Linked DNA regions of Homo sapiens: region 1 is linked to region 2. The links come from fine-mapping of genetic effects on plasma protein levels. A gene starts in region 2. The other region holds a variant in brackets. All regions are shown on one strand. Distances are between the middles of the regions.

What was found. A credible set is the group of variants that fine-mapping cannot tell apart. PIP is the chance, under the fine-mapping model, that this variant and not a neighbour inherited with it causes the effect. Protein levels are from antibody-based Olink assays in UK Biobank. Linkage for the fine-mapping came from a reference panel and not from the study's own genotypes, which makes the PIPs less certain.
Region 1: its variant is the best candidate, but not a certain one, in a credible set for the plasma level of the PPL protein (UK Biobank, PIP 0.72).

The regions. Positions count from the first base shown.
Region 1 is chr16:4,947,237-4,952,601 of GRCh38, forward strand. No RefSeq gene overlaps it. Among named protein-coding and RNA genes, the nearest start is that of SEC14L5, 8.4 kb to the right of the region's middle. RefSeq lists an enhancer at 576-1,333. The variant C/T (reference allele first, on the strand shown) is at 2,975.
Region 2 is chr16:4,933,935-4,939,299 of GRCh38, forward strand. PPL (periplakin) reads right to left here and starts at 3,214. Exons shown (of 22, transcript NM_002705.5): 1 at 3,050-3,214. The coding sequence starts at 3,111. RefSeq lists a silencer at 3,157-3,556.

The sequences.
Region 1 (5,365 bases), 13 kb after region 2:
CATTCTTCCCTCTCTCCCTCCCTTCCTCCATCCATCCATCCATCCATCTATCCATCCATCCATCCATCCCTTCATTTGTCAAATATTTACTAAGCACCTGCTACGTGACAAGTCCTGTTCTAGGCACTCAGGATTCAAGATCAAGTACAATAGACTCAGGTTCCTGCTCCCAGGGAGCTTGCTGTGGGAGACAGGAGTGGGAATGGACAAACAATGTAAGTTTGAGGTCCCCTTGGGTGGATCATGGCGCCTCTTCTGTGTGCCCCAGGAGACAAAGTCTGCAGTCGGCACAGAGTCACCGTCAGGTGGGGGCCCAGGGACACTATGAGGAAAGTGGCCAGACTCCAGTCTGAGGGTGGTTGAGGACCCGGTGAGGAAGGGGAGGCCTTAGCTTGCAGGGCGTCAGGTTCCCTCATCGTGTTTTCTGCATCACTGACATTTCCCAGGAGCCAGGCTCCTCCCCAACCCCCGTGGAGGATCTCGACCTCTTGCCCCCACAATACCTCCCACAAGTCACTCATCCATTTATTGAGCACCTACTGTGTACCCGGCTCTGGGGATATAGTAGCAAACACGATACATCCCTCACATCCTGGGGGCCCCCTGTCTTGGAAGGGAGGAGGGACAGAAAAGCAAACAGATAACCACATTTTTTACAAATGAAATAACCTAAGTGCCCATCAGTGGGGGAAGCGGTGGTAAATTACAAAACTGCCCTAGTCTGGGAGGAATTCGGGGAGGCCTGTGGGCCTCACAGGGAAGCTGAGGGTGTAGCAAGTGAAAAAAGGAAGCTGCCTGCTATTAGGTGTCGTGTTTTGCCATTTCCGCTTCAGAACGGAGCTGCCCTGTGTCTCCGTGAGCTCGTCCTCCACCTGCCTGCCTGCCTGGCTCTGCCTCCACTCTTTGTTCACGCTCTCTGCTGAGCTCAAACATTCCTGCTGGGCCCAGGCAGCCAAGCCCCCATCAGCCGCCTCCCAGGCCATTCTCTAATCACAAGCTCAGGCTTAATCCCCACACACGCCCAGGACTCCGCTCTGGGCAAATACTCCTCCTTTCAGCCCTGGAGTCCCTGACCTCCCGCTACCCAGACCATCCTGTCCCCTGTCCCCAGCCAAAAGGCCCCCCTCCACTGGTTGGGGGTGGGGAGACCTCAGTGTAGCCTTGTCCAATAAAACTGCCTGTGACAATGGAAATATTCTGTATACATGGAGGCGGCAAGCCACATGTGGCTACTGAGCACGTGAAATGTGACTAGTGCAACTGAGGAATTGAATTGTTAATTTTTAAAAATTCATTTTAATCCATTAATTTATTTTTTGTAGAGATGGGAGATTCTCACTGTGTTGCCCAGGGTGCCTTGAACTCCCGAGCTCAAGCCATCCTCCGGACTAAGCCTCCCACAGTGCTGGGATGACAGTCGCCTGCCGCCACGCCCAGCCTGAATTGTTAATTTTATTGTTTATGTGTATTGTTATTTATGTAAATATAGAGCATATTCATATTTACAGAATTTAATTAATGCAAACGTAAGTAGCAGCGTGCATCTGGTGGCTGTCGCAGGGTCCACCTGGGCCCAGGCATGGAGAAGAGGACAGCTCGGGTCCCTGGTCCTCTTCTTGGCAGGGGCAGCCTAGAGGGGCTGGGTGGCAGCTGAGGCCTCAGGCACTGAGCTGGGGGGTCCCTGGAGTCGCTGTGTTGATGGGGCTGAGCTTTGGGTGTTGGTGCCTGTGGCCCCTCCCCAGCGGCCAGTCCCTTGTTCTGACCCCTGCTTGGTGGTCAGAATCACACACTGAGAGCTCCTGAAGACCTGAGCTGACCTTCAGGTGGGACTGTCCGGCTCCAATGACAAGAGGTCGTTTTCCCCAGGTTCCTCTGTCTGCATCCGCTCCACGGATGCGCTCTCTAGGAACAGCTTCCCCTTCCTGGTTCTCCTGGGTCTCCCTTTCCATTCCTACAGCATCTACCTGGGCAAGAGATCTAGGGTCTCACCCCCTCACCTCCAGATTCCTGAGGTCACTTTGGTGGCCTCCCTCCTCCTGGCTCCTCCTCCGTGCTCTCTGCACCCTTCCCCCTCCTCCACCGTGGTCAACTACAATCTATTCCCAACACAGCAACCAGAGGGCTAAAGTGAAGTCAGCAGACTCCCCTGTCCCATACCTCCCAGACACTCTGAGTACCTCAGCATCAGAGCCAGATAACCCATGAGACCCCCTCCCTCAGGCTCCCCTCAGAGTCTGCTCTCTTCCCCGCCACTTCCCTCCCACTAACTCTACCCCCGATACACTGACCGCCTCCCCAATACTCAAACACGCCAAGTATGCTCCTGCCTCAGGGCCTTTGCATCGGCTGCCCCCTTGGCCCCACTCTCTACGTGGACCCCCTGCTCTTCTTCCAAGCCTTTGTGCCAAGTCACCTTCTCAGCGCAGCCCACCTGGTCCCTACATTGTAATCTGCCCTGCACTTCCCACCCTCTTTCCCTGCTCACCAATCATGGCACTCAGTGCAATCTAACCCACAACAGAAGCCACTCACGGATACAAAAAAATAAGCCAGGTGTGGTGGTGGGCGCCTGTAATCCCAGCTACTCAGGAGGCTGAGGCAGGAGAATCGCTTGAACCCGGGAGGCGGAGGTTGCAGTGAGCTGAGATCGCGATTCTGCACTCCAGCCTGGGTGACAGAGTGGGACTGTGTCTCAAAAAAAAAAAAAAAAAAAAAAGGGGAGTGAAGGCCTGACATGCGCTTCAGCATGGTTGACCGTGAGCACATTAGGCTCAGTAAGAAAAGCCAGATACACAACGGCACATATTATACGATCCTGCCTGTGAAATGTTCAGAGGTGAATTCGTAGAGATGGAAAGGAGACTGTGGCTGCTGGGGAGAGGGGAGTGGCGAGTGACTGCTAAGGGGCACAGGTGATGATAGTGCTCTCAAATTGACCATGCTGATGGTTGTGCAACTCTGAAACTACCAAAAC[C/T]GGCTGGATGGCACTCTTTTTTTTTTTATTTTTTTTTTTGACAGGGTCTTTCTCTCTCTCTCTCCTTTTTTTTTTTTTTTTTTTTTTTTTTTTGAGATGGAGCTTTGCTCTTGTTGCCCAGGTTGGAGTGCAGTGGCGCGATCTCAGCTTACCGCAACCTCCGCCTCCCAGGTTCAAGTGATTCTCCTGCCTCAGCCTTCCTGAGTAGCTGGGATTACAGGCATGCATCACCACGCCCGGCTAATTTTGTATTTTTAGTAGAGACAGGGTTTCTCCATGTTGGTCAGGCTGGTCTTGAACTCCCGACCTCAGGTGATCTGCCCACTTCGGCCTCCCAAACTGTTGGGATTACAGGCATGAGCCACCACGCCCGGCCCCTGTTTTTTATTTTTACTTTTTTTTTTTTGAGACAGAGTCTTGCTGTGTTGCCTAGGCTGGAGTGCAGTGGCACGATCTCGGCTCACTGCAACCTCTGCCTCCCGGGTTCAAGCAATTTTCCTGCCTTAGCCTCCCAAGTAGCTGGGAGTACAGGTGCCTGCCACCATGCCCGGCTAATTTTTTTTGTATTTTTAGTACAGATGGGGTTTCACTATGTTGGTCAGGCTGGTCTTGAACTCCTGACCTTGTGATCTGCCTGCCTCGGCCTTCCAAAGTGCTGGGATTATAGGCGTGAACCACCTCACCCGGCCTTAAAATTTTTTGTAGAGACTGGAGCCTTACTATTTTGCCCATGCTGGTTTTGAACTCCTGGGCTAAACTGGTCCTCTCTCCTTGGCCTCTCAAAGGGCTGAGATTACAGGTGTGATCCCCTGTGCCCAGCCAAGGGTATTGCTGTACTGCTGAGGCTGGAGTGCAGTGGTGTGATCATTGCTCACTGCAGCCTGGAACTTCTGGCCTCAAGCAATCCTCCTGGCTCGGCCTCCCAAAGTTCGGGGATGATAGAGGTGAGCCATCAGACCCAGCTGAATTGCATACTTTAAATAAATGAATTCTGTATCTCCAAAAGGCAGAGTTATCACCTTCCTATACTGTGTTGGCCACCCCCTCAAATGTCCAACGTCAAGTCCTCACTCCCCTTCACCCTAAATTCCCGTGGGAAATGCCCCTCCTTCTAAGCCCGCACAGTTACAAACATGTACCCGGGTCCTCTGGTGGTCCCTGTGCAATTACTTTTCCTCACGCAATTTCCACCAACCTTCAGGATAACACTATGGTTAACCCCATTAAAAAAAAAGTTTCCAATGTGATTTTTTTTTTTTTTTGAGACGGGGTTTCACTCTGTCACCCAAGCTGAAGTGCAGTGGCACAATCTCGGCTCATTGCGACCTCTGCCTCCAGGTTCAAGCGATTCTCATACCTCAGCCATCCGAGTAGCTGGGATTATAGGGGCCTGCCACCACGCCTGGTTAATTTTTGTATTTTTTTGTAGAGACAGGGTCTCACCATGTTGTCCAGGCTGGTCTCGAACTCCTGACCTCAGATGATCTGCCCACCTTGGCCTACCAAAGTGCTGAGATTATAGGAGTGAGCCACTGTGCCTGGCCTCAATGTGATTTTTTAAAACAAGGCTAATCAGGTGAAGCAGTGGGAGTGGAGAAAACAAAACAAAACAAAACAAAACAAACACATCTGCAACGGGTTGAGACAATTAGTTGTAAACACCACTGCACTCAGACCAGCTCCTGTTATTTTTTTTATTGCAGTAAGATATATATAAAACATTGCCCATCTTAATTAATCATTTTTCAGTGTGCAGTTCAGTGGCATTCACATTATTGTGTAACCATCACACCATCCATCTCCAAAACTCCTTTTTTTTTTTTTTTTTTTTTGAGAGTCTCGCTCTGTTGCCCAGGCTGGAGTGCAGTGGTGCAATCTTGGCTCACCATAACCTCCGCCTCCTGGGTTCAAGCGATTCTCCTGCCTCAGCCTCCCGAGTATCTGGGATTACAGGTGCGTGCCACCATGGCCGGCTAATTTTTGTATTTTTAGTAGAAATGGGGTTTCACTATGTTGGCCAGCCTGGTCTCAAACTCCTGACCTCGTGATCCGCCCGCCTCGGGCTCCCAAAGTGCTGGGATTACAGGCGCGAGCCACTGTGCCCGGCCCAGAACTCTTTTCATCTTCTAAAACCCAAACTCTGTGTCCATTAATTAACTCCCCATGCCCCTCCCCCCAGCCCCTAGCCCCGCCACCGTTCTTCTTTCTGTCCCTGTGGATTGGGCTCCTCTAGGTGACTCAGATGTGGAATCACTCAGTTCTTGCCCGTTCAGCATAATGTCCTCCAGGTTCATCCAAGTCGTAGTGCGTGTGGGTGCTTTATTCCTCTCTAATGCTGAATAATTTTTCATGTTACCCCTATTTTTTTTTTTTTTTGAGATGGAGTCTCAC
Region 2 (5,365 bases):
TTATCATTCACAACCTTTCCCCTGCATTATTTCATTTAATCCTGAGCCAACATCGCCAGGCAGGCACCGTGCTTATTCCCATCCCACAGGTGAGAAAACAGGCTCAGAGAAGCCAAGCAGCTCCTCTGAGGTCGCACAGCCAGGAGGGTGGCAGCGGGTCTCCTCCAGGGCCTCTCTACTAGGCTGGAGGCTGTCCTCGGTCACCTGCACCATCTGGCCTGACTCTGTCATTAGCTCAGGTGTGAACATCAACTCCCACACCTGTCATTAGGAACCCGGGCAACGGGAGCAACGGGGTTCACACCCTGTCCCGGCCCTCCCCAGCTTCAGCTGCTAAAAGGCAGACAAACTGGAAGGGGTGGCTTTCTCGGTGGGGTGTTCCGTTCACTAATCCACACTTTGTAGTCCAAAGGCCTGACTACCTTGGGTATGAAAGTCACCACTTGGGGCTCCTGGGTCCCCTGGGCTCGGAAAGGGCTGCTACCCTCATCCGGGCACCTCCTGTGTGCTACAGCACTGCTCCTCCCAGCAGCCCTATGCATGAGACACTCAGTATTACCACCCGTGCTGTGCAGAAAGGGAAAACAAGGCTTCGAGAGGCTCCAGGGTGGAGATGCCAGGATCAACAGTGAGGCATTCTGCTCTCAGTGCTGGAGCTCCTACTGCCCCCCATGCTGAATCTCACCAGCAATTTTGTCCTCCCCCAGACAATGGAGCGGGCCCCTGGAAAACTCAGAGTGAAGGAATAACTTGGGGATCCACTCCCTGTGACCAGCGACCACAGCCTAGAGCCGCAAGTCTGTCCCCTCCACCCCCCCACCAAGACACTTGCTATGGGGCTGGCTGGGCATCAGGCAATGTTCAAGAGATGCGTTTGAGAGGATGGGGTACAGGGCTACCCCCACCCCACAATCCAGTCTGCGAACTAGTCCCCACTAAGGGGAGGGGGCAGAGGGATGCACTGGGCTTGGAGACCACCCGGGGAGGCATCTGACATCTGCTCAGGGCTGTGGCTGTGCTCATTCTGTGCTGGGGTGGCAAGGCTCAAAGGAATGGTCTTGCACCCCAGGCTGGGGAGAGAATCAGGAGGGCTTCCTGGAGAAAGAGACGTCTAAATGGAGATCTGGGACCAATGGCTATCAGCCTAGGACAGACCGTGGCTGCCTTGGGCCAGATATACAGAGAGTGGCAGGACCCCAAATCTTTGCCACCCCAGACCCTCCCAGTCCCTGCAGCTATAAAGGATGGGATGCCTTTCATCCTCATGCTTCTGGGAAAGCCCGCACCCCTCCCAGCTTGTCTGGGTTCATTAGAACCTTTTGTTAGGTCCAAGCTGGGGCCTTCAGGATGGAGAGCTGCACGAAGGAGGGAGGCTGGGAGGAGGCAGAGGGCGGGGCGAGGCCTGGCCCCACCACTGGTATGTGGGTGTCTGCATGTGTGAAGGACTGGATGGGTCTAGTCTCTGGGGTGGAGAGGACAGAACGGTTCTCCACGGCTGGCACGGAGCATCCAATTGTGCAATGCCCCAGGGAACAGTGCAGGGACTGGACGGGCCTCTGGTTGGGTCTGAGTGCCAGCTGGACGCAGCCATGGAGGAGGGGTGTGCAGGCCCTGCCCAGTCTCTGGGGTTGTGAAAGATAGGGGAGGGGTGGGGAAATCTCTAAAGGCGGGTAATGCCTCTGAGCTTGAAAGAGCCCAAACGGAGATACGGGTGGGTGGGATCACAGGGCAGGGGGGTTTCTGAAAGGGCTGGAAGGCCCCGGAATGGAGTGTCGCACTCCAGCGTGCTAGGGCCCCGCCGCCTGCACCTGTCCGACTGGTCGGCCTAGGCCGGACTGCAGGGGTTGAGTGGGAGCCCTGGGCCCAGAGGCCTCTCCTTGCCTAGGGAAGAAGTGAGGAGCTGCTTGAGGGCACAGTGGGGGCTCCCAGTGAGAGCAGCTTGGGGGCAGAACTCCCAGACAGGAGAGCCATGTAATGTGCGGGCCCCTCACCTGCCTGAAGCCTCTTGTCCGAGAAGCTGGCAAAATGGTCCTTGCTAGCCCAGAGCCCCCACTCTATTTTCCGAAGTGGGGATATAAGGCAGGGGCTGGATTCCCACCCCCTCCGTCAATCTCAGCATCTCCACCAGGCTCCCCTAAACCGGTTATTAAGTGAACACATTAGGCTTATCAAAAGGGACGTGGGCTGCTTCTCCCTGCAAACACATCAAGACATGCCATTCCCCTCCCAGGCCGCCCTGGGAACCCGCGGCTCAGAGACGCCGCCAGTTTCGGGGCTGGGGTGGGGGCAGGGAGCCACACCCCTGCGAAACCGAGCTTCGAAGAGGAGGCCCCGAAGCCGCCCAACCTCCGCTCAGAACCCAGAGGGTGGGGAGGTAAGGGGGTGCCTCCCCCTGTGCCCCTCGACCCGACCCCACACCCCCCAGGGCCTCCGGGCGCGGCTCTGGCGCGCAGGGTGGCAGGTGCCGGGAAGTGCAGCGGCGGGTGGCCCGCCCCCTCCGGACACCCATCCCTCGCCTCCCCGACGCCAGGAACACTTGCGCGGTCTCAGAGGCGCTGGAGAGCGCCCCCCGACGCCAGCTCAGTTTCCCTGCCTCAGGGCGCCCCCTGGACGGAGCTTCCTGGGTCGCCCGCAGCGACCCCGCCTTGAGTGCCCGGTCCTCCAAAAACTCCGCCCCCTCATCCAGGTGACTATTCCCGGTCCTGTGCGACCCTCTGCGCAAGAGCGACCCTGGGACACGGGGGTGCCCTGTACCCCCAGCTCAGCTGCCCGTGCCCTAGGCCCTCAAGGCAATGCTCCCTGGGCTCCCGGAGTCCCCTGTGTTATGCTCCCCCTCGGGGACCCCAGCCAGTCCCTTCCCACCTGGCGGCGCTTCCCAGCTTCAGGGTGGCCTCGGTCCCGCGTTCCCGAGAGTCCCGCACTCCGGGTTCAGTTCCCGGTTCCTGGACCCCCGTACCCCCCATTCCTACACTGCCCGGGAGGTCTTCCAGGTCCTGTGCGCCCACAGGGGCAAGAGCGTCCCGGAGCGGAGCTGTGGGCGCCTCCTCACCTCCGGGTCTGCACAGTGGGGCTGTATTTGCCTTTGTTTCTCTTCCTGAAGAGCGAGTTCATGGTGGCGCTCGGGGTGCGGGCGGCGGCGGCTGGCGGGCCGGGCGCGCACCGAGGGGCGGGCGGGAGCGCAGGTGAGCGAGCGGCGGCGCGGGGAGCCCGGACTGCGGCGCGGCAGTGGCTCCGGGTCCCTACTCGCTGGGGGCGGGGCGCCCGCCGGCCACTGGCTCTGCGGGCCGCTCCCCGAGAAGGTGGTGCTTACCTTCCCGAGGAGGGGCCACCGCGCGGGCGGGGCTTGGACGCGGGGGTGGGGACACTGGGTCTTGGCCGGACGCCGCCCACCCCCAGCCGGGGGACTCCGGAGGCCGGGCAGGCACTGGGGCGCAAAGGCCGCCGGGGCGAGCGCTCGCAGCCCCACCCTCCTCGGGCCCGGCGCGCCTCTGGCCGAGGCCTTCACCTGGTTCTGCGCTACCGCGGAACTCGGCGCTCCTGGTGCTTTGGCGGACACCCAGCTGGGCCCCGCAAGACAGGTGCGGCAGAGACCCGCACGGATTCATGTGCCCTAGTAGCTAGCGAATTGCACTCAGATGGTGGCAATTGAGGGAAGGGGGCTGAACTGCCGAGGGCGCCGGCCTGAGTTCAAGCCCTGCCACCCCCAGGTTGGCTGACACTCCTGGGCAAGGTGTTTTACTGCTCCCAGCCACAGTTTACTTCTTTGTCAAACGGTGATAACCACCACCCCATCCGAAAGGCCTGTGGGGATGTCCCTGCAGGTAATGCACGCAAAGCGCTGAGCGCAGTGCCCTGGCCTGAATCTGCTCTCCGCTTGCCATCTCGGGTGGACAAAAACTCCTTTGAAACTTCAATAACTCCAGGCCCTGGCACTAGAAGAGCGCTTCATAGCTGGTCATAAAAGCTGCTCGATTGCGGCTCAGAACAACGACGTTGCACAATTCTGCCAGCATGTCCTGGCCCAGACTGTGTGCCAGTGGAGGAGGCTGCCCTTAGACAGAAACCTAATCTGACCTGAAGCCCGGATGGCACACACCACCACACCTGGCTAATTTTTAAAAATTTTTGTAGAGGCAGAGTTTCACCATGTTGCCCAGGCTGGTCTTGAACTCCTGTGCTCAAGTGATCTGCCGGCCTACAGCCTCCCAAAGTGCTGGGATTACAGATATTAGCCACCGTGCCCAGCCAACCTTATTCTTAATGGGGCTTCTATGGGTGGGCTTAACCCATTTATGCCTGAGGTTGCAATTTTTTGAATTGATAAATCATACCTTGGCAGTGACCTTGAGCAGTAGGAGATAACTCCCACAGGCGTCACGTTCCAATAATGGACCACTAGGCGTAAATAGAGGTGTGATTCCTCCTAAAGTTGTGCCTGCCTGCCTGCCTTCCTTCTTTCCTTCCTCTCTCTTTCCTTTCTTGCTTTCTTGCTTTCTTTCTTCTTTCTTCTTTGAGACTCAGTTGCCCAGGCTGGAGTGCATTGGCACAATCATAGCTCACTGCAGCCTTGACTTTTGGGGCTCAAGCAATCCTCCCACCTCAGCTTCCCGAGTAGCTGGATCCACAGGTGTCCACCACCACGCCTGGCTAATTTTTAAAACCTTTATATTTATATATGTTTTTTGTAGAGATGGGGTCTCGCTGTGTTGCCCAAGCTGGTCTTGAATTCCTGGGCTCAAGCAGTCCTCCCACCTTGGCCTCCCAAAGTGCTGGGATTTCAGGTGTGAGCCACTGCACCCAGCCCTAAAGTTGCTTTCAAAATGTGTGTGTCCAAATGTGCATTTTTCTGGGGGAGGATGTATTGCTCAGTGGAGTCATTTACTCATTCAACACATGTTTCCCATCACTCTCACAGCCTCAGTGTGCCTGGCTCTGCTTGTTGTACACGGATGAGAAAAGGGAAAAGAACAACACAAAAGGGGCTTTCTCTTTGGGAGCTTTCAGGTCCCGGGGCAGGGGACACATATTAAAAATGTTAACTTGGATGGGCGCGGTGGCTCACTCCTGTAATCCCAGTACTTTGAGAGGTCGAGGCAGGGGGATCACCTGAGGTCAGGAGTTCAAGACCAGCCTGACCAACATGGTGAAACCCCGTCTCTCCTAAAAATAAAAAATTAGCTGGGCGTGGTGGCGCCTGCCTGTAGTCCCAGCTACTTGGGAAGCTGAGGCAGGAGAATCTCTTGAAACTGGGAAGGGGAGGTTGCAGTGAGCTCATATCACGCCACTGCACTCCAGCCTGGGAGGTCACAGTGAGCTGAGATCGTGCCACTGCACTCCAGCCTGGGCGACAGAGTGAGACTTCGTC